Linked DNA regions of Homo sapiens. The protein of the gene in region 3 purifies or fractionates together with the protein of the main gene of each other region. This does not show direct contact. Each region holds a gene or a part of one and is shown on either strand. Other genes may lie near its edges.

Region 1 (7,526 bases), on a different chromosome or scaffold from region 3:
TGGCAAGCCCCACCCAGCTCTGAGGTCACTGCCACTCCGGAGACTTTCTTTCTTTAGCCCTTTCCGCAGTACCTGCAGCAAACTCCTCACTGTTTCCCATCAGCACACTGTCCACTCTCAAGTGTTGGCAAGGATGATGCCTTCCCCTGTGGCCCCAGCCATGGTAGTGTCTGATACACAGCAGGCAATGAGTAAGCAAATAATTTGGCATCTATCGGACACACTGAAAATACTCATTGGATTTTTTTTTTTTTTTTTTTCCGAGAGGGAGTCTTGCTCTGTCGCCCAGAGCTGGAGTCCAGTGGTGTGATCTCAGCTCACTACAACCTCCACCTCCCAGGTTCAAGCAATTCTCCTGCCTCAGCCTCCCAAGTAGCTGGGATTACAGGCACGCACCACCACGTCCAGCTAATTTTTGTATTTTTAGTAGAGACGGGGTTTCACGATGTTGGCCAGGCTGGTCTCGAACTCCTGACCTCGTGATCTGCCTGCCTCAGCCTCCCAAAGTGCTGGGATTACAGGCTTGAGCCACTGTGCCCAGCCAATACTCATTGGATTTAAAGGTAATGTACCACCTTTCTCAGTTAAAACTGCCCAGGTTCCAAATACAGCATCTCGGAGGGAACTGTGGGTAGCTAGACTAGGGCAGCAGGTTCTATCTGGAAATGTCAGTATTACAAAATGCCCGTGAGATGAGGGAGAGTCTGAGCTCCTGGCTCCATCCCCTCCTCACGCCAGCACGTGAGTTTAATAGTTTCCCTCTGGCCTCTAGTTCCAGTGCCCTTTTGCTATCACTAAAATTTGGGGCTGGGCAAAAGACTAGAACAATCCACAGCTCTCACTATACAGACCAGTTCTTTACATTTTTCAGGTTCCAAGTGCTCAAGTTCTACTGGACATGAGCTTTGGGGATGCATACCTACACAAGTCTGCCTTTTCCATCTTTTTAATCTTTTCACTGAACCCGCAAGGAAAATGTCTGCTGCATCAAAAAACCCTCAGTCCACCCAAAGCACCTCAGGGCTGGTAAGAGCCTAGCTGCAGCCCACAACCACTCCCTCAAAGGCAAGGCACTAGGTCACTGTATCCACTACCACTGAAACCCCACCAGTCAGGGAAAGAACATTAAGAACATTGGTGAGAGTCGGGGCTTGGACATGTCAACCTGACAATGCACTGGTATCTTCACCCACACTCAGACACACTCAGGTACCAGCCCTAACAAGTCTTAACATGGCTGGGGCTTTATCTGCCATGTCCCTGGCACAGGCAGATAGCCAGGGAGCTGGGCACTGCCAGTCAGCAAGCAACCTGACCATGGCTCCAGACCAAGGTGTCTGCCACGACACTCTATGTGCCACACCCACCTGCAGGCTGCCTTCTTCCTCCTTGATCCCCAGCACCCTGCTGCAGCTTTATCGAGGCTGGCAAGCAGACAAGACCTCCATTGCACCCATGACCATGCCATACTAAGAGTCAGACAGTAGGACCAAAACCCACTATGAATACAGAAGCCGATCTAATGCAAATGTATCTGCATTTTAGGAGACCACTGCAATCTGGCACAGACCCAGCCTATGGAAAACAAACCCCTTGCCCCAGTTTCCCCTCCAGTCTCTGGCAGTAGAAAAAGCGGCAGGGGGCCGGGTGCGGTGGCTCACGCCTGTAATCCTAGCACTTTGGGAGGCCGAGGCGGGTGGATCACCTGAGGTCAGGAGTTCGAGACCAGCTTGGCCAACATGGAGAAACCCCGTCTCTACTAAAAATACAAAAATTAGCCGGGCGTGGTGGCGGGCACCGGTAATCCCAGCTACTTGGGAGGCTGAGGCAGGAGAGTCACTTGAACCCGGGGGACGGAGGTTGCAGTGAACTGAGATCCCACCACTTCACTCCAGCCTGGGCAAAAGAGAATCTGTCTCAAAAAAAAAAAAAAAAAAAAAAGACAAGAAAGAAAAAGCGGCAGGGCTCTCACTTTGCCACTCTCGTGTTTATCTGCTTTTTACAGCAAAAGATGCATGAAAGTAATTAGCAATAATAATTGCTTCCTAATGCCCCGTAGTTGTCTCTGGAGACCATCTTTCTGGAACTTTCCCTGCGTAAGTTCTTTGGTAATGAGTCTCCTAAGAAGCTCCTGAAAGTGGGATCTAGCGTTGGCTGACAGACAGGGAAATAGGCAATTTTCCAAGTTTGATTTTAACTGAAATTTGGAACTCAGAGTACTTCTGGTCCCTCCTTCAGGGATATGAACGTTAGGAGATGGAACCCGGGCACAATTCGCATCCTTGGGAACCGAGGCTTTCCCACTATCCCCTGCCACGAGGAGCGGCCCGGGGGATCCGGGGGAGACACGCAGAGTGGGGTGTGAGTCGGAGACCCTGGGACCACCTAGCCCGCGCGCGCTTCCGGTAGGGCGCAGAGGAGGTAGTGGCCCCGGCCCGTACTCCCAGCAGGCCTCAATTTCCCATTCTTGAAGGGGGTCTCCCGTGCGACCCAGGGCCCTGGAGGGCCGCTCACCTCTCGCGCCGAGCGGAGCTGCTGGCGCAGAGCGTCCTTGCAGCCGTAGGGGCCACCTTCGCCAGCGCCGCGGGGCTGGAAGTGCGTCTCGACACGCGTGGCGCCGCGGTAGGCGCCCTGGTAGAAGGCGGGCCAGCCAAGCTCCAACAGCGGTGGCTCCAGGTCCGACTGCTCGGGGAAGTAGGTGCCCGAAGAGCAGTCGTGCGAGGAGCCGAACGAGTCCTCGGCCGCCGCCGCCGCCGCCGCGCCCTCCTCTCCCGGCCTCTCCGCCGCGCGCAGAATGGCGTGCACCTCATCGGGGTTCAGGAAACGAGCCAGGCGCTCGCGTCGCAGGAAGGCCGCGAAGGCTTCGGGGCCGCCCGCCACCAGCTCCTCCAGAGCCAGGCGCCGTGACTCGCTGAACAGCTCGGTCGGGTTGGGCGGCCCGCACGGCGACAGGCAGGCGGCGGGCACCTCGTCCAGGCCCTCGGACAGCAGAGCCATGGCGGCGCTCGGACTCGACAGCCCTCGGACAAAAACCGGCGTGCAGTCCCGCTTTATAGGCAACCTTTGAATCAAACAGGCCCGCGCCATTGGCCGCACCTCCCCGCCTCGGCTCTCCCATTGGCTGCTTTCCTTCCAATAGCGGAGCGAGGCGGGGCGCAAGCCTCTACGGCTCCGCCCCCTGATGCGTTATTGGCTGCGATGCTGGGCTTGCTAAGAGGAATTTAAACTTGCAGGGGCGAGGCGGGCCGCAGAGCAGGGACAGAGCGGGGAGAGCCGAGCTCCTGGCCATCCCAGCGCGCCCCCTGCCGGTCGCCCCGCTGCGCGGCCGTGCAAGGCCAGGGACAGTCAGGCCTAGACAACGAGGAGAGGCAGGTGCCGACTCCCGGAGACTCTGGCCACGCTGCTCCTAGGCTCTCAGTGCTTTGGCATGGCCAACCATATCGCCTTTATCACCTGCCTTTAACCATGTATTCATTCATTCAAAGAATACCGGCTCATCGTATTAGGACTGCTCCTTTGATTACACCCTCGGGTAGTCTTCTCTCATTTCATCGATTTTTGCCTTGTAAAACCCCAACCAACCGTGGTTATACCCTACTTTCCACCTGCACCCCGGCAGCCCTACAGGGCTGAAGAAAAAACAAAAAGAGCGTAACCATGCTTACTGACTGGTCATGTTTTAAATTCATAATCCGTAAGACTGCCTGCTAGGAGGCCGGGCGCGGTGGCTCACGCCTGTAATCCCAGCACTTTAGGAGGCCGAGGAGGGCGGATCACCTAAGGTCAGGCGTTTGAGACTAGCCTGACCAACACGGTGAAACCCCGTCTCTACTAAAAATACAAAAATTAGCCAGGTGTCTTGGTGTACGCCTGTAATCCCAGATACTCGGGAGGCTGAGGCAGGAGAATCACTTGAACGCGGGAGGCGGATGTTGCAGTGAGTCGAGATAGCACCACTGCACTCCAGCCTGGGCGACAAGATCGAAACTCCATCTAAAAACAAAACAAAACAAAACAAAAGCAAACAAACAAAAAAACTGCCTGGTAGGCCGCATTTCCCTCATTCTCTCTACCTTTTCCTCTCTGACAGCTTGTCTTCCATGTCAGCAAGAACACAGAAACAGTAAGAAGGGAACGTCCACGTGCGGCCATCTAGTCTACCTTCCTGTCTGCATCTCTGCCCGTATACTGGGCATTGATGAACTGTGCCTGTGCCCATCCAACCCCAACCCCTCTGCCTGGGCATTTCCAGCCCCTCTACTACTCACCAGCATCGCTCCAGCAATCTTCTTCTTTCTCCTGGAACATCAGCTTCCCTCTTTACCGATTCATTTCTATCAGCCTACAAGCATGCTGAAATATTTTTCATCTTAAAACAACCCTCTCTTGACCCTACATTCCTCTAAAGCTCCCCATCTCACTTCTTATTTTTGCAGCATAGAATCTCAGATGTGGCTGGCCATGGTGACTTACACCTGTAATCCCAGCACTGTGGGAGGCCAAGGGAAGAGGATCACTTGAGCCCAGGAGTTTGAGACCAGCCTGGGCAGCATAGTGAGACCCTGTCTTTACAAAAAAATACAAAAGTTAGCTGGGCATGGTGGTGCGCCTAACTTTTAGTGCATGGCAGTGCTCATGATGGTCCCAGCCAGTGGGAAGGCTGAGGCAAGAGATCACTTGAGCCCAGGAGTTTGCAGCTGTAGTGAACTATGATCACACCACTGCACCCCAGCCTGGGTGACAGAGTAAGACCCTGTCTCAGAAAAAGAAAGAAAGAAAAGAAAAGAAAAGAAACCCTCAAACCAGTTGTCTATACTTGCTGTCTCCAGTTCCCTTCCAGCCCTCTTCAATCAGGCTAAAACCCCCACTGCTTTACCAAAACCTCTTGTCAGGTTCATCATGAGTTCCACAGAGCTAAATCCAACAGTCAATTTTCAGTCGTCATCTTTTTTATGTAAATGAAAAGTGGGTCATAAATGTGAGATGTTACCATTATTATTTAGCAACCAATAACCTTTTTAAATGGATGAATGCCTGCCGCTGTTGAGACGCCTCTCCCTCTCTACCTCTCCTCTCCCCATCCCCATCCCTTTGTGAAGTTTCTCAAGAATAAGTGTGGGGACTTCCATGTGTCCCTGCGCTGGTATCCAGGGTCCGGGAGGCTGCAAGAGAGCACCTTCTTTTTTTTTTTTTTTTTTTTTTTTTTGAGACGGAGTCTTGCCCTGTCACCCAGGCTGGAGTGCAATGGCGTGATCTCGGCTCACTGCAACCTCCGCCTCCAGGGTTCAAACGATTATCCTGCCTCAGCCTCCTGAGTAGCTGGGATTACAGGCTCATGCCACCACACCTGGCCAATTTTCTGCATCTTTAGTAGAGATGGGGTTTCATCACGTTGGCCAGGCTGGTCTCGAACTCCTGACCTTGTGATCCGACACCCTTTTCATCCTCTTTCAAGAAAAACACCAACAAAGTTCTGTGTGGGACAAGGACCAAGGACTGTGGTCTGAGGCTGTGCAACCACATAGCTTCTCTATGCCTTTAATGCTCGAGGTAAAAAATGAGAATGGCCGGGGCCTTAGCTGCTGTATTGCTGTCATAAGGTGAAGTACTTTATAGTATCGTACTTCCCCACAATAAGCACACGAGGGGAAAGAGTGGAATGGGGCAGGGGGAAGAGGACAGGACATGTCAGTTCACTCCAAGAATGGGACAGAGGAGAGGGGCACCCTTGTTACATATAAATGTCATGAGAGGCGGGGCGTGGTGGTTCACGCCTATAATCCCAGCACTTCGGGAGCTCAAGGCGGGAGGATCACTTGAGGTCAGGAGTTGGAGACCAGCCTGGCCAACATGGTGAAACTCTATCTCCACTAAAAATACAAAAAATTAGCTGGACATCACGGCGAGCGCCTGTAATCTCAGCTACTTGGGAAGCTGAGGCAGGAGAATTGCTGGAACCCGGGAGGCAGAGGTTGCAGTGAGCTGAGATCACGCCACTGCACTCCAGACTGGGTGAAAGAGTGAGGCTCCATCTTAAAAAAATAAAAATAAATAAATAAATATCAGGAAAAACTTTGAAAATGTATGGAATAAATATATGCTACTATACGGCCTCATGTTAATTTCAAAGAGATTATTTGACAGAATGAAGGTCATTCCCAACCACCCACCTTTTCTTGAATTCATCAGTTTTCACCATCTCCTAGTCTGGGGAGACATCTGCTCCAGGTCTGAGCCCCCAGAGCTCCCTCTATTTCAGGGGTCTCATGGGAAAGCCCTCTGTGGGAAAGGGGTGGGGTAAGGGGGAAGAGACTAGGAGCTCTCACCCACCCTCTATTCCAGGAACCTCCTCTTTGTGAATTCAAGTCAGCACTGTTCAAGTGAGCTCACAGCAATAATCACTCACACTAGCAGGTGTTATTAAAAGGAATTTAATAATTTTAATTAAAAACTCTTAACAGCGAATTCTGTCACAGGCCTTGGCAGCTGGAAGCAACTCCAGGGACATGTGCCCCCTTTGGGATGTGGCTGAGCCACAGTTTTGGACCCAAGGCCCACCGGTGCCGCGTGGCAAGGGGCTACGTGGAAGTTACCTCAGTACGATATCAAAGATCTGCGAAGATTTTTTTTAAAAAAGTTTTAAATATATTAGACTCTCTTGATTGCCATTTTTACACAAAGCTGCTGATACAGTATACAGAGTTTTAATTTTTTTTCACATAAAATACATTTTTTTAAGTGTTCTCTGTACACCAGTGGCTTCTGGTCTGGTGAATTATTGCGGAGGGCTGGGGGTCTGCAGACTTTTCCTGGGTGTGCAGAGCCAGGCCCCGCACGGTGGCACTTGCAATGCCCATGGGAAGCAGGCCCTCTGGCCAACAAGAGAGACCTGTTGGGGAGAGGGCTATAGCTTCTGGCACAGGGGGTCACTTTTGCAGAGTCATCCACTGACCATTGGAGCCTTTGCTCTTATGTGCCCTGGGGCAGGGGAGACCATCCCCAAGTTACAAATAGCAAGAGTTAAATACAGCTTTTCTGGGCATCTTAAAAGGAGCACCCTTCTTAAAAGTACCCCAGTATCCTGCTCTAGGAGAGAGAGCAGGTAGGTGAGAGAGCTCAGGATGGGAAGGTATCTGACACCAACAACCACAATGGTCTTATGTTATTACAAAGCCAGCAAACCGGTGGGGCAGGACAGGGGACACACCCTTGTTAGCTTTTCTAAGCCCCTTGGAAATGGATTAAACAGTGCAGAGCAGTTTTACTTATGCTGTATATTTGATGGAGAATTCTATCCTGAAGTCTTTAGTAGCCCTGGGCCTAGAGTTTATTCAGCTTCCCCAAGCTACTTGCCAGAAACTCACAGTCTGGTGATAACCGCCAACTTTCAGTTGTTTGGGGCATATGATGGTGAGCCATGCAGCACCTGCTTTGGAAGTGGTCTCCTTTAATCTAATGAGGAGCTGCCATAGGACCTGGGTCTCAGCAGGAGCTAGGCATCTGGTTGACTTTGCCTGGTTACTCCC
Region 2 (6,837 bases), on a different chromosome or scaffold from region 3:
TGCAAGCTCCGCCTCCCAGGTTCACGCCATTCTCCTGCCTCAGCCTCCCGAGTAGCTGGGACTACAGGCGCCCGCTACCACGCCCGGCCAATTTTTTGTATTTTTAGTAGAGACGGGGTTTCACCGTGTTAGCCAGGATGGTCTCGATCTCCTGACCTCGTGATCCGCCCGCCTCGGCCTCCCAAAGTGCTGGGATTACAGGCGTGAGCCACCGCGCCCGGCCGCATGTTTCTTAATCTAATAAAAATACTAATCTCAAATCAATAGCTAGATAGTTAAGGCATTCCTGTTAAAGTCAGGAATAAGATAAGGAAGTTGGCTACAAACATTATTATTAGACATGAATCTGGAAGTGCTATTTTATTATCAGTCAAGATAATAATAATAATTGCAAAGCAGGAAGCAAAAGAGTTATTATGTATAAGGTTATGTAATTATTAAAAATTGATAAATAAGCTGAAAATTAAAACAAGAAAGTTTGGTGCACTAGTCAGTTAAAAATTTAACAGAAAAGACAAATAGCTGTCCTACATAGTAACAATAACCATTTAGAAATAGAACGGAAGAAATAATCAATTTTATGCAAAGTTTGCATAAAAACTAGGTAAAGTTTGCATAAAAACTAGGTGAAAGAAATGAATAAATTTAATGCAATTTCCATAAAAATTCTAGCTTTTTTGAACTTGGAAAGTCTTCTAAAGTTATGTGGAGAAATAAATACTTAAGTATAGCTAGAAAATTCTAAGAAAGTACAAGTAACAAAGAGGGACTTGCCATATGAGATATGAGAATGTAATATAAACTCCAATAAAAAGTGGAGTGATTTTGCTTCTGGAATTGCAGAACTGATCAATAAAATAGATAAAGACCAGAAACAGATCCAAGTGTATGTAAGAATTTAATATATGGCATGTTGGGAAGTCAGTGGGACAAGTACGGATTATTCAATGAATTGATAAGTGGATTTTTTTTTTTTTACATAGTCTTACTCTGTCTCCCAGGCTAGAGTGCAATGGCGTGATCTTGGCTTACTGCAACCTCCGCCTCCAAGGTTCAAGTGATTCTTGGGCCTCAGCCTCCCAAGTAGCTGGGATTACAGGCATGTGCCACCATACCTGGCTAATTTTTTTCTAATTTTTTGTATTTTTAATAGAGATGGGGTTTCACCATGTTGGCCAGGCTGGTCTTGAACTCCTGACCTTAAGTGCTCCACCTGCCTTGGCCTCCCAAAGTGCTGGGATTACAGGTGTGAGCTGCTGAGCCTGGTCTTTGATAAATTGACTATTTAAAAATTACAGCCTGAGAAGCAGCTTTACAACTCCACCCCTAGTAAATGGTAAAATGATTTTTAAAAAAAGTTGGAAAATGTAAGAGACAAAGGGATGTTTTCCTTATAATGTAAAGAATTCACATAAATCAAGAAGAAAAAAGACAAACATCTTCCCTGAAGAACATTTTTTCCCTACTTCAAAGAAAAATGAGTTAGGGAAGTGAAAATCCTATTCGCATTAGATGTCAATTGGTCATGTGACAAACATTCAACCTTCCAATAATCAAAGAAAAGCGAATCTGGGCAGTTGCAGTGGCTTGCGCCTGCAATCCCAGCACTTTGGGAGGCTGAGTCGGGCAGATCACCTGAGGCCAGGAGTTCGAGACCAGCCTGACCAACATGGTGAAACCCCATTTCTACTAAAAGTACAAAAAATTAGCCAGGCATGGTAGTGGGTGGGGGTTGGCGGCGGGGGGTGGGGGGTTGGTGTCTCTCTATGTTGCCCAGGCTGGTCTTGAACTCCTGGGCTCAGGCAATCCTCTTGCCTCGGCCTCCCAAAGTGGTAGGATTACAGGTGTGAGCCACCACGCCCAGCCAAATCATGTGTATTTAAAACAAAATTTCGTAATTTAAAAAATATAATCAGTTAATAATATTGAATTTTGCCTAAGGGGAAAATGTAGTTGGATGGGATTACCAGCCATACAAAACACCTGTACTCAAGGGAGGCCAGAGTATACATATATCACCTTGAACTGTGTGCTCTTGTACTTTGGCAAAATCTTTCCTAATGGAATGTTAAGCAGGACAAGGAGTCCTTTTATTTATTCTTCTAGATACCACAGGTCATACTTTTTTCACACCTTGAAATAATTGTTTTCATTCAGGTGAGCTTTAGTGTTATGGCTTCAGTCAAAACTGTAGACTTTATTCACTCACTCACTCAATATTTGTTGAAGCCTATGCAGTACCAGGCACGTTTCTCAATATTTGGGACCTGTCAGTGTTCAACTTCCCTGGACCTTGCTTTCTGTGTCTCTAAGAAATACTGTATAGAAGCAGCTATCCTCGAGGATATCTACTACATTATTCAGTATCCTATAGAGAAGTTTCTTTAAGATTTAAGAACTAGAAGAGCAGTTAAAGAATTCATGTATATTTTACTCATGAACAAAGGAAAATTCATTTCTCTTTTTTTGTTTGGGCTGTCAGGAAACAATTTTTAGCCCAATTCAAACAACTGAGTAAGATATTGCATCCATCCAATTCCAAGATTAACCTTTTCCCCTTTCAGAAATCCTTCTCTTCCTAGTTCATCTTTTATTGGCCTTGCTTTTTAAAAATTCAAAATGTTTTGTTTTACTATATTCTAATGTACTTGTAAACTGCTTCAAATCTCAAATCCCTTGTGGGATGTGAACCTAAATATCTGTATTTGTAAACTGCTTCAAATCTGAAATCCCTTGTGGGATGTGAACCTAAATAACAAACAGAAAAGGTCTCTAAAATAAAAGACATGTTTTGAGAATGGAGCATTTCAGTGGGAAAACGCATGCCATAGTAAACTATGTGTGTATTCAGGAAGACGAAGGAAGACAAAGAGTTTTAAAGGAAAAAAAAATGAGGATGGTTACACATTGTTTTGAACTAATTATCTTAGCTACAAAGGTCAATAACAAGGGTGACGTCAGTTAAAGGTTGGACAGGCAGTTTCTGGGCAGACATCCTTGCAGAGGTTTTGTATAAGGTCGTGATGGTCTTTGTGCAACGTTGTGGTTTTTACAGTCTTTGTTTTCAGGCATACAAGCATGAGTACCCTCTCTTCATAGCCTTTCCTGGCTCTATTTGTCAGAGTTTTTGTTTGTTTGTTACCCAAATGCAGTAAGTCAGTACTGATTGGATTTTGGCTCAAGTGAAAACATCTACTTACAAAAATGGCAAGAACAACTGAAGACAATTTTTGTAAGCAATGTTGTATTCTACATTCATTTTGCTTTGGTTTTAATTTTTTTTAATTGACAAATAATAACTGTCATATTCATTGGGTACATAGTGATATTTCTATACATATGGAATGTAGTGATCAGGTTAGGGTAACTAGCATATCCATTATCCAACTGAGGACATCTAGTATGGCCCAGGTATTAAATAGTATTAGTAAACGATTGTTAATTTTCTGAAGACTTGGTAATAGTATTATGATTATGAAAAAAAAGTCCTTATTTTTAGAGATGCACACTGAAGTACGCAGGGGTGTGGTGTCTCATCTGCAACTTTAGGATGATTCAGCAAAAAAAAAATTTACAAGCATTTATGTAAAGATAAAGCAAATATAGCAAAATGTTGTGTTGAACTGTTGAGTCTGGGTATTGGGTGGTATTGAATTAGGGTGGATAAATCTAGAGACTTGTTATTTTTGCCGCTGTTATTATGACATCACTAGAAAGCTGGAATTATTCCCACTCTAAAGCACCCTGAAATCTCGCGACACTACGGCCTGGTGGCGCGCGAAACGCGGTGGGCGGGACTGGGGCGAAAACCACTGACTTCCGGCTACGCCGTTGTCTGGGTGGCGCGGTCGAGTCATCGCAGGGCCTCACCGCTTCGTTCTCCCGTCCCTCCCCGCGCCTTGGCGCGGGGGGTCGACTAGCCAAGTGAGGCGGGAGGCGACTCGGACCTTTCCCTGCATTTCGTTTCGGCCAGTGCCGGGGGCTACCCGCCCTGGGGCCTGGGATCCTTGGGGCCCGTGAGGCCCACTCTTAGCGGCCGGGGCCTACCGCGGCCCGCCGCTGGCCCTCATGAGGCATAGCCTGACCAAGCTGCTGGCAGCCTCGGGCAGCAACTCCCCAACCCGCAGTGAGAGCCCGGAGCCGGCTGCAACTTGTTCGCTGCCCTCTGACCTGACCCGGGCTGCAGCGGGGGAGGAGGAGACGGCGGCGGCCGGATCTCCCGGCCGCAAGCAGCAGTTTGGCGACGAAGGAGAGTTGGAAGCCGGGAGGGGGAGCCGCGGCGGCGTGGCCGTGCGCGCGCCCTCCCCCGAGGAGATGGAGGAGGAGGCGATCGCCAGCCTCCCGGGGGAAGAGACGGAGGATATGGACTTTCTGTCTGGGCTGGAACTGGCGGATCTCCTGGACCCCAGGCAACCGGACTGGCACCTGGACCCCGGGCTTAGCTCGCCGGGGCCTCTCTCCTCGTCTGGCGGAGGCTCGGATAGCGGCGGCCTGTGGAGAGGGGACGATGACGATGAGGCCGCGGCTGCTGAAATGCAGCGCTTCTCTGACCTGCTGCAAAGGCTGTTAAACGGTATCGGAGGCTGCAGCAGCAGCAGTGACAGTGGCAGCGCCGAAAAGAGGCGGAGAAAGTCCCCAGGAGGAGGCGGCGGTGGCGGCAGCGGTAACGACAACAACCAGGCGGCGACAAAGAGTCCCCGGAAGGCGGCGGCGGCCGCTGCCCGCCTTAATCGACTGAAGAAGAAGGAGTACGTGATGGGGCTGGAGAGTCGAGTCCGGGGTCTGGCAGCCGAGAACCAGGAGCTGCGGGCCGAGAATCGGGAGCTGGGCAAACGCGTACAGGCACTGCAGGAGGAGAGTCGCTACCTACGGGCAGTCTTAGCCAACGAGACTGGACTGGCTCGCTTGCTGAGCCGGCTGAGCGGCGTGGGACTGCGGCTGACCACCTCGCTCTTCAGAGACTCGCCCGCCGGTGACCACGACTACGCTCTGCCGGTGGGAAAGCAGAAGCAGGACCTGCTGGAAGAGGACGACTCGGCGGGAGGAGTCTGTCTCCATGTGGACAAGGATAAGGTGTCGGTGGAGTTCTGCTCGGCGTGCGCCCGGAAGGCGTCGTCTTCTCTTAAAATGTAGGGTCAAGTAATCTGCTCTTTATCCGCGTTTACCCCTTTCAACTCCCTTACACCATGTCAAACTTACCTTAGTGGGACATCTTCACCGGACACATTTCAGAGGAGAGAAAAAAAGTAATATTGAATCTTAAAGTGTTTAGCTAAAAGCATGAATGTGACACAGTAACCAACTCCTAATGATAACATGTGACTATTAAATCTCTCTGACAGTTTCTTTTTTAGGTGATTTCCTTCCTGCCAGGCTCCGTTGTAGGGGTTACAGAACAGTCGTTCCCGCCTCACAACCTGGTAAGGATCCATCTCTTCCCGTAACGCTCATGCTCTGCTGCTTTGTCTACTTTAATGGGCAACATCTCAGTTTGTGTGTGTGTGATTTTTTTTTTTTTTTCTGTTTTGGAAGGTGGGAGGGAAATCTAATTTGGGCCCTGTCCACCCTGGAAACAGACTTGTGCTGGTCAAGAATGTATTTAAGATGCCTCTTCTGGTTGAAATAGCTATTAATGTGTCCCCTTATTCAGACTTGCGTGTACCTAGCTCTTCTGTCCCCAGTGTGGACATGGCCTTGGATGACATCGGTTCCAACTGTACACTGAAACCTGCTTATAGAGAGACAGTTTGGAGACAGTGAAACAGGTGAAGTTGAATGGAAGTTCCGAGTTGTACAAGGTGCAAATTGGAATTCCGATTTTAGGGCAACTTTTCAGAGGTTGACAGTTAAGTATTTGGGGCATGCACAAATGTGATAGTTATTTTGCTGGAGGTGACAGGTATCTCTTAAATATCAACAATGCCTTTTAGTTTTCAGTATGAGATATAGAAACAGTCTATAATGGAGTAACATTTTAATGTCTCACCATTAGAGAAGTTGGAAATTAACATACATATGAGACTCCTGCGTTTTAGTTAATTGGAGAATAAGAATGGCTAATGTTTCTTTGAGGACCAGCAGTGATTACCCTATCACTGAGATTGAATAAATTGTTGAACATCTTTATTTTTGTTGTATTAAAATTTTAGGTTAAATTTATATATGTATGATTAGATATTGAAGGTTGTGAAATGTGAATGAAAACGTGTAAAGTGAGGCTTCACAAAGAATCTTATTCTCTGTGTTTCAAAAGTATTTGTCCTATTTTAAAATAATTTTTTAAATTGAGTGGTTCTGGCCACTTAAATGACACGATTGGTACTATTTTCCTAAGGTGGGATTTATTCCCTTGAATCTATTAACCAGTTGTATAAATTGAATTATGGTGTCCTTCAGTGTAAGAGGCATTAAGAAATTCTTTGTGAAACATCACTGCTTGATAAAGTATATACGTATTTAGCATCCTTGTTTTTCTTTGTGCTAAAGTGGATACAGCTGTTGGGGCAGAAGAGACGGGACCAGCTGCTGGCCACATTTCCTGCTTTATTTTAAAAGGTAGTATAAGAAATGAGGAAAAAGAGGTAATATCAGGGCTTCTGCTGTTTTTTATTTTTAACATGTTCATAATTAAAAAGTATTTTCCAGCAGTCCAAAGATGTAAGTTATCTTACACATAAAATGTTTTATTTTGTTATTTGGTTATGAAAATGGAATCCTTGTTCTTGCACAACTGTAAATGTTTTGTTGCTAGATAATACGATTTGAGACCTGAATTGGTCTTTGGTTTCCAGTGCATCACAGCATATTTTGTAAAATCATCTACTACTGCACTTGAGC
Region 3 (7,023 bases):
GGGTGGCGGCGGTGAGGGTGGTTAGTATTTACCATTCAGTTAAATCTCATGTGCCATGTGCCTTCTACACCCCTGTACTGTGAGAGGTGATGCTCAGAATAACAGTTGCAAAGCCCGTTAAAATTACCACTTGTCAGATTTTCTCTTCATAGTGCTGATCTCTCCATGACTTACGTTTTAGGAATCACCACCTCTCTTCTAATTTTCTGACTAATGTTCTGTTAATGAGAGAATTGTCTTAACCCTAAAACCTGCATTCCCTGAGCATTCTAGACAGAGGGTTTATTTTATGTGGTGGAACGATGATTTTTGAGATTGTTTTGATTTAAAATATATGTCAAATGAGGTAATGTACCGATGGCCAAGGTATGGGTAATTTGAGTGCAATTCGCCAGAATCCGTGCCCCTTGGAGGGAGTAAACATTTCAGGACTGCAGCTAAAACATTGACTTACACTCTCCTGAAGCCCAGGCACCTGGCTTACACAGTGCACTAACATAACTGAAGTCTGGGTTTGATCACTGTACAGTTGACAAAGAAGCAGTAAGCAGAATGGTTAAAAAGTAGTTCTGGAGCCAGACTGCTTAAGGTCAGGTTCTGGTTGTGTCACCCACTTTAAAGCCTTGGGCAAGCTCTTCTACCTGGTAACTAGTGCCTCATTGTTTCCTCTGTAAAACAGGGGTGGTGATAGTAGAATCTGTATCAGAGAGGTTGTTGTGAGGATTATATGCGTTAATACGGGGTAAGTGGTTAGAACAGTGCCAGCTTTATAAGAAACATCAAGTGTTAGGTGTTATTATCTGTTGTTCAGAATCAGGGAAGTACTTAGTTACACAGTAGTGTTTTATAGCTGTTGAGAGCTGAATTGCCGGCATTGATCACAAGTGAGACTGGAAAAACAACCCGGGGAACACTCTTATGTTAAGTCAGTAGCACCATCTCAAACATACATCCAACTTCTGAGGGCAACGAACACAGGACATAGCTTTTTACTTAAAGGAATCTTAACAGTCTCAGCGGAGTGCTTGAGGTAGTCACTAACCAGTTAATTGAAACTGGCTTTTACGAAATAAAAACACTTGCCATTCTTTGGCTAGTCTTTTCCACGTTGTAGTTGACATTGTGGCCTGGCAGCTTTAGTAACCTGTCCACCCCTCCCTTCTTGTTAATACCAGAACAGAACTAGTTTCTCAGTACATATTCCTGGGCCCTATCCAGTTTGTTGGAAACATTTAGAATGTAAATTTGTAAGCTAATTAGTTTCTTCTAAGTATTATGTTTTCTTTAGATGATATGCCTGTACTAATACAGAAAAATTATCCATGAAATGGATATGAATACAATGGACATATTTATCGTATAGCTTTTTGTACCTGTTAGTAATTCAGAAAGGTTGTGTTATTTTGACCATTCTTTCAGCCAGATTGTAAGTTTCCTGATGGTGAGAATCTGTGTCTTTCTGTTTTATCTCCTATGGCACTCTGAATGTGCCTTGGCTGTGTTTCTTTAATAAACTGTTGGTTGCTGAACTGGGTGGTATGATATGCGTTCATTCTAGTTCTGTGATTTTGAAACTTGGGAATGTTTAACAGATTGAAGGAGAGAACATCGTGTGTGGTACCTTGTAAGTGTGCACTGAGTTGAAATTCTTTTGATTATTTAGCTTTCTACTTTCTGTTTTTATCATTGGTGTGATTATTGAGAAGGCAGCTGGAATTAAGTAATTCTAGTTCATCTCCTAAGATAGACATAAAACTTGTCTTGTGACTTATTTTTACCCATAATTGGATTAGAATTGAATTGAGCAAAATATAATTTGGTTTTCTAGATGTTAAATGTCTTATATGTCTAATACTTTGAATATCACTCCTCTAGAACAGGTTCTTTGTTTTATTTAGGATCAGGGACAGGTTAGAAAATATTCAAATATTCATAGGATAATAAAAAACTGCCCTGAAGCAAACGTGAGGAAGAAGAAATAGTGGTAGCCAGAATCTTGGTTGTTAATGACCAGTGTAGAAACACAGTGGGCATGCAGTGAAATTGGCTGGCAGCTGGTTCCTTCTCAGTACGGGCACAATTTAGAAAATGTTACATTAATGCAGCTGAAATTTTGTGCAGATCATGTTATTTGAAAAATAAATGTAAACACTTTTTGCAGTGCCTTAGGAAAGTCATCGTTCAAACTAATATTTTTGTAATAAACTAGTTATTCCCAGTTTTTTTTTTCTTTTTTTTTTTTTTGAGATGGAGTATCACTCTGTCGCTCAGGCTGGAGTGCAGTGGCGCGATCTCGGGTCACTGCAACCTCCGCCTCTTGGGTTCAAGCAATTCTTCTGCCTCAGCCTCCGTAGTAGCTGGAATTATGGGGCACCCCCCACCATGCCCAGCTAATTTTTGTGTTTTAGTAGAGATGGGTTTCACCATGTTGGCCAGGCTGGTCTCGAACTCCTGACCTCAAGCAATCCACCCGCCTTGGCTTCCCAAAGTGCTGAGATTACAGGCGTGAGCCACTGTGCCTGGCCCCTAATTATTCCCAGTTTCTTTCAGGTAAAGTTTTTTTCACTTTTTAAATTTATCATTTTTTTAGATCAGATCAGTCAGTGGACAGTTGCACTCTACTTCCCCATCCCTCATTAAAGTGGAATTACACTAAAAAAGGTTTTCAATTCCTTTGTAGCCTGGACATTAGTAATAGCCTACCTCTAAGGCTGTAGAGTAAATAGTATAGTAAGGGAAATGTCCCTCCCTCCCCCTACACACCTTTTTTCCAGTTATCTCTTCTTTTTATTGATTTGTCTGCCTCCAGGACCCTAGGGAGGTGTTTTTGTCCTAAGGAGGTGAACTCCTGAGGGTCCTATTGAAGAAATAGGGCGACCTATCCACCCAACTTCCTCTTTACTGATATCTTCACATGCTTATTGCCTTATTCATTTTCTAAAGTGTGCCAGCGTCTTTCAGAAGTCAGCTAAATTAGTGCAGTTGCTCATCCATCAGACAGTTTTGTTATAAAATATGTGGCTATAAAAGATTGAATAAATTTATTAGGTTGTAATTTCATTAATGTGTATTTTATATTTAAATATTATTTTAAAAAATGTACAGTGGTTATCTGATCTTGGCCCAGGCCTCTTCAATTTCCAGTGTACCTGATGTCTCTTTATCAACTGTTTTTCTGAGGTGTATCTCAGCCTGGCCTTGGGTACTCCCCTAGGTAAGAGTCATAATTCAGGTTAAAAGAGGTAAGAAAAAAAAAAGCTTTTGGCTTTTGTAATCTTGTTTTTTTTTTTTTCTTTCACATTAGCAAAAGACTGTTGAAGTAGAGAGCATTTTGCCCAGCTCACTCGGATTCTTTGCTGGCATGCCTTCAGTTTCAGTTGTCATCCAGAGAAGTCAAAGGAAATGCTGCTTGGGGATGAGCATGTAATTACGATTAACTTTCCCTACTTCGTTGTCTCTTTGTGGTAAAAGACTGTCACAAGTGCTATTCAAACTATAGGTATTTTTTTTTAGATTTCTAAAAAGTATATTTTGTCTCTGAGGGCCTCCTGTCTTTGGACTAGTTTGTCTTTTTCCAGACCCCAGAAAGGCTGGGCCACCTTTTCTTCTTTGAGCAGGTTGGCAACAGTGGTCACAAATAGCAGAGGAGCTGAGATTCTAGAGAGCTATCCTACCACTGCTTCTCAGATGCCAGTGTGGAAACAGCCTCTTCTTTTTTGTTGAATTAGCTTGGAACAGCTCTCTAATCTCTGAAGAGTGAGGAAAAACTGTGTTTTTAAGTTTCAAGGCTAAGGCACTGTGTTCTCTTTTCTCCCTGTTCCTGCTGCTGTTCTCCCCCAACTCACATGAACGCATACTTAACTTTCAGTGTATGTGGACAGTAGGGTTGCTAAATTCATGTCAATATTTGTGGCATTCCTACATGTTAGGCATTTGGTTTACATTTAACTTATGAAACAAATGTTTAGGCTTTTATAAGCCAGGAACTTTTCCAGATATTGGCAATAATGAACTTTTCAGAAGTTACAGTCTAATAGACAGGCAAACTATTCCCATAGCATGCTATAGTAGCAACATGTAAAATGTGCTGTGGAACCACAGACTATTAAAAGCCTAAGTTTTGGGAAATCAAGAAAGCCTTAGGGATGTTTAGTGATGAATGCATAGGTTAGTGGAGGAAACAACTTGTATCAACTCAATTTGAGAAGCTTAGCTGTGAATAAGAGGAGAGAGAAATAGATTTTAGTAGGGAGAAGTTGGGTCAGGAAGAGTGTGTGTGTGTGTGTGTGTGTGTGTGTGTGTGTGTGTGTGTATTTAAAAATCCAGTCAATGGAAAAAGGTTGAAGATGCAGGCAACGTCCTTGTTTTGTCCTTGGCAAGTTCCTCTTATGGTTGCAAGATGGCTGCCACAAGTTCAAGTGTCACAAGAAAATATGACTTAAGTTTCCTGGAAGAAGACACACTTTTTTTTTTTTTTTCCTAGGTTGTTGCTATCAGTGAGAAAAATTTTTCCCTAAAGCCTCATAGCAGATGCTACCTTGTCCCTCTCTCCTCTCTTCATAGGTCAGCATTGCACACAAGCCAGTGCCTAAATGAGTCAAGGTCAAGGGGAATAGTACCGCTGTGATTGGCATAAATGGATCGTGATTCATCTTAGGTTGTGGCTGGGGTCTACTTCCTTGGAAGTTGATGGCCTCGGGTTGAGAGTAGATACGTGAGCACAGTCAGGGTTTGGTTAGAAAGTGAGGGGGTGAATGGTGTTGTGCAGTTAACAGTGACATCCTTGTCTACTAGTTCTGCCACCACTACACTTAGATACAAACTTCGGAGGAGAAAAAGAAAATGTGCTTGCCTTTGGATTTGGAATTTTAGGTGACTTTTTTTCCTCTTATATGCCATTTCCTTCTATGATCAAGTAGCACTTTTACAATCAAATCAAATCAATGGTTTATTTAAAAATTATTTAAAAATTGAAAATGCCAATTTTGTCAATAAATATATATAGAAGAAATAATTTTTTTTTTCAATGCTTTAAACATTTCAAAAGTTCCCTGCCATTGTCTTATTCCTTTCAGGGAGAGGAGAACATATAATTATATCTTGTAGTTTCTGATTATGTGTATACTAAGAGGACTACTCTGTCCCTCAGTCCATAGTGCACACCCACCTGTGGTCTCTATGGCTTGCACTGAGTGCTGAGGCCAGCCTGGCTCAGATAGAATTGTTAGTTCATTGGCTAGATGGGTCAGGATTCTTTAGAATGCAAATTCTTGAATCAGGAGTACAAACAGGAACATCTTCCCTTTTCTACACACTCATTCCCCTCCTCGAAGGGAAAGCTGTCCCGTAGTTAGCTTATTCGTCATTCTTTTCAGACTTTAAAATTAATGCCACCTTAAGTTTATACAGTATTCTTGTAGTACTCCTAACTTTTCTGTTTTGCTGTATGTGTACATTGTAGAAAGATTAAATCAAGCTAATTAACATGTCCATTACCTCACTTACCTTTGTGTGTGTGTGTGTGTGTGGTGAGAACCTTTAAATCTACTCTCTTAGCAATTTTGAAATACAGTAGGATCCCCACCCACTGTTTTACTTTCAGCAGTTTGTTACCTGTGGTCAGATGAAGTCCAAAAATATTAAATACAATAGATATTTTGAGAAAGAGACAAACATCACATTCACATAACTTTTATTACAGTATATGGTTATAATTGTTGTATTTTATTATTGTTAATCTCTTACTGTGCTTGATGAAAAAGCATAGTATATATATAGGGTTTGTTACTATCTGCAGTTTCAGGTATCCACTGGGGTTCTTGGAATGTATCCCCTGTAGATAAGGGGGACACCTGTGTATGTTGTTACAAGTATGATCACTGTGTAAAAGCACTTTTGTATTTCATTCTTGTTCCTTCTCAATCGCAGGTCTGGGTGCTTTCTGTGCTGTGAAAGGCAGACAAATAATGTAAATCCTAAACACTTGAGTGTTGTAAATTTACAAAATGAGAATTGCTCAATGGTTGTTTCTTTTTGAGAGTAACAAATAGACTGTGATAAATGGCCAGAGTAGGCTTCTGAACTGGTATTAGTTTTTTGGATAGAATTTAGAAAGACTTGTACTACCAATATAATTTTTGTCTCAGATAAATGCAATAGTATTTCCCTACTCAGTAGTTCCTCAGATGCTATTTAAACTGAGCTATATTTCAGCTTTATTTATAGGCTGCAAATTGTTCCTTATTTGGCTGAATCTTGTGGTTATGATATAATGAAAAGTAGTTACTGAGATCACTGGTGCAAATCTGTAGCTTGGAAATCCTCATTTTAGAAATGATTATTTTGACTCCCAAGTTAAATAGTAAAAAATAGACTTATGTTTTTAGTTTTAGCTATGTATATTGAGAAACTGTGGCCCTACGGTGGCTGTTAGGGATTAGTGGATTAGGTTGTTTTTAAATAAGACATTTCAGTTTAGTATCTCTACTTGAATAAAACAGTTTCAAATTTGTGATTCATATGATATACTGATTGCCCTACGGTAACTTCTGTTTTATTTAATTAAAATTGTTAACATTCTTTTTTATACTCTTAAGCACCTCCCTCCACCCTCACCCCCCTTTTTGACTCAAATTTTATTGTGAGTTGGTGTATAGTTAGGAATTTGAAGAGCACTTTTTTTGTTTATTTTATCTTTTCGGTTACTATGCATACTATGTGTGTCAACTCTTAAACCTGCAGGGGGTCATTTTGGCCATCAACTAGTTTTAGGGCTTTCGCCTCCTAAAGAATATGAATTATGGTTGTAATTTTTACAGTTTAAAAAACAAGATGGCATATGAAGAATCTTTATTTCATTATGAAAATAGAACATGGATGCTTAATCCTCTGTATTGAAAGTAACTTGTAGTGAAATACTTCCTAGTGTTCTCTTCTTCTAGTTGTCCATATGTAGTATGTATAACTATAGACCTTGATGATTTAAGTTGAGCACAGTTTAGTGTCAGGTTCCTTTCAGTGATG

The links. The genes of interacting proteins can lie anywhere in the genome.
Region 1: the proteins of BACH1 (region 3) and FAM83D purify together in Homo sapiens (co-immunoprecipitation; 4 studies listed by BioGRID and IntAct, with this or other methods). This does not show direct contact.
Region 2: the proteins of BACH1 (region 3) and CREBZF purify together in Homo sapiens (co-immunoprecipitation; 3 studies listed by BioGRID and IntAct, with this or other methods). This does not show direct contact.

The regions. Positions count from the first base shown.
Region 1 is NC_000020.11:38,921,914-38,929,439, reverse strand, and holds the start of FAM83D (protein FAM83D), read right to left. Parts: upstream 3,024-7,526; 5' UTR 2,998-3,023; coding exon 2,515-2,997; intron 1-2,514.
Region 2 is NC_000011.10:85,662,107-85,668,943, reverse strand, and holds the start of CREBZF (CREB/ATF bZIP transcription factor), read left to right. Parts: upstream 1-3,814; 5' UTR 3,815-4,068; coding exon 4,069-5,133; 3' UTR 5,134-5,342; coding exon of another isoform or gene 5,343-5,358; 3' UTR 5,359-6,837.
Region 3 is NC_000021.9:29,301,900-29,308,922, forward strand, and holds part of BACH1 (transcription regulator protein BACH1), read left to right. Parts: intron 1-3,304; exon of another isoform or gene 3,305-3,423; intron 3,424-7,023. UniProt on the Homo sapiens protein: Transcriptional regulator that acts as a repressor or activator, depending on the context. Binds to NF-E2 DNA binding sites. Plays important roles in coordinating transcription activation and repression by MAFK.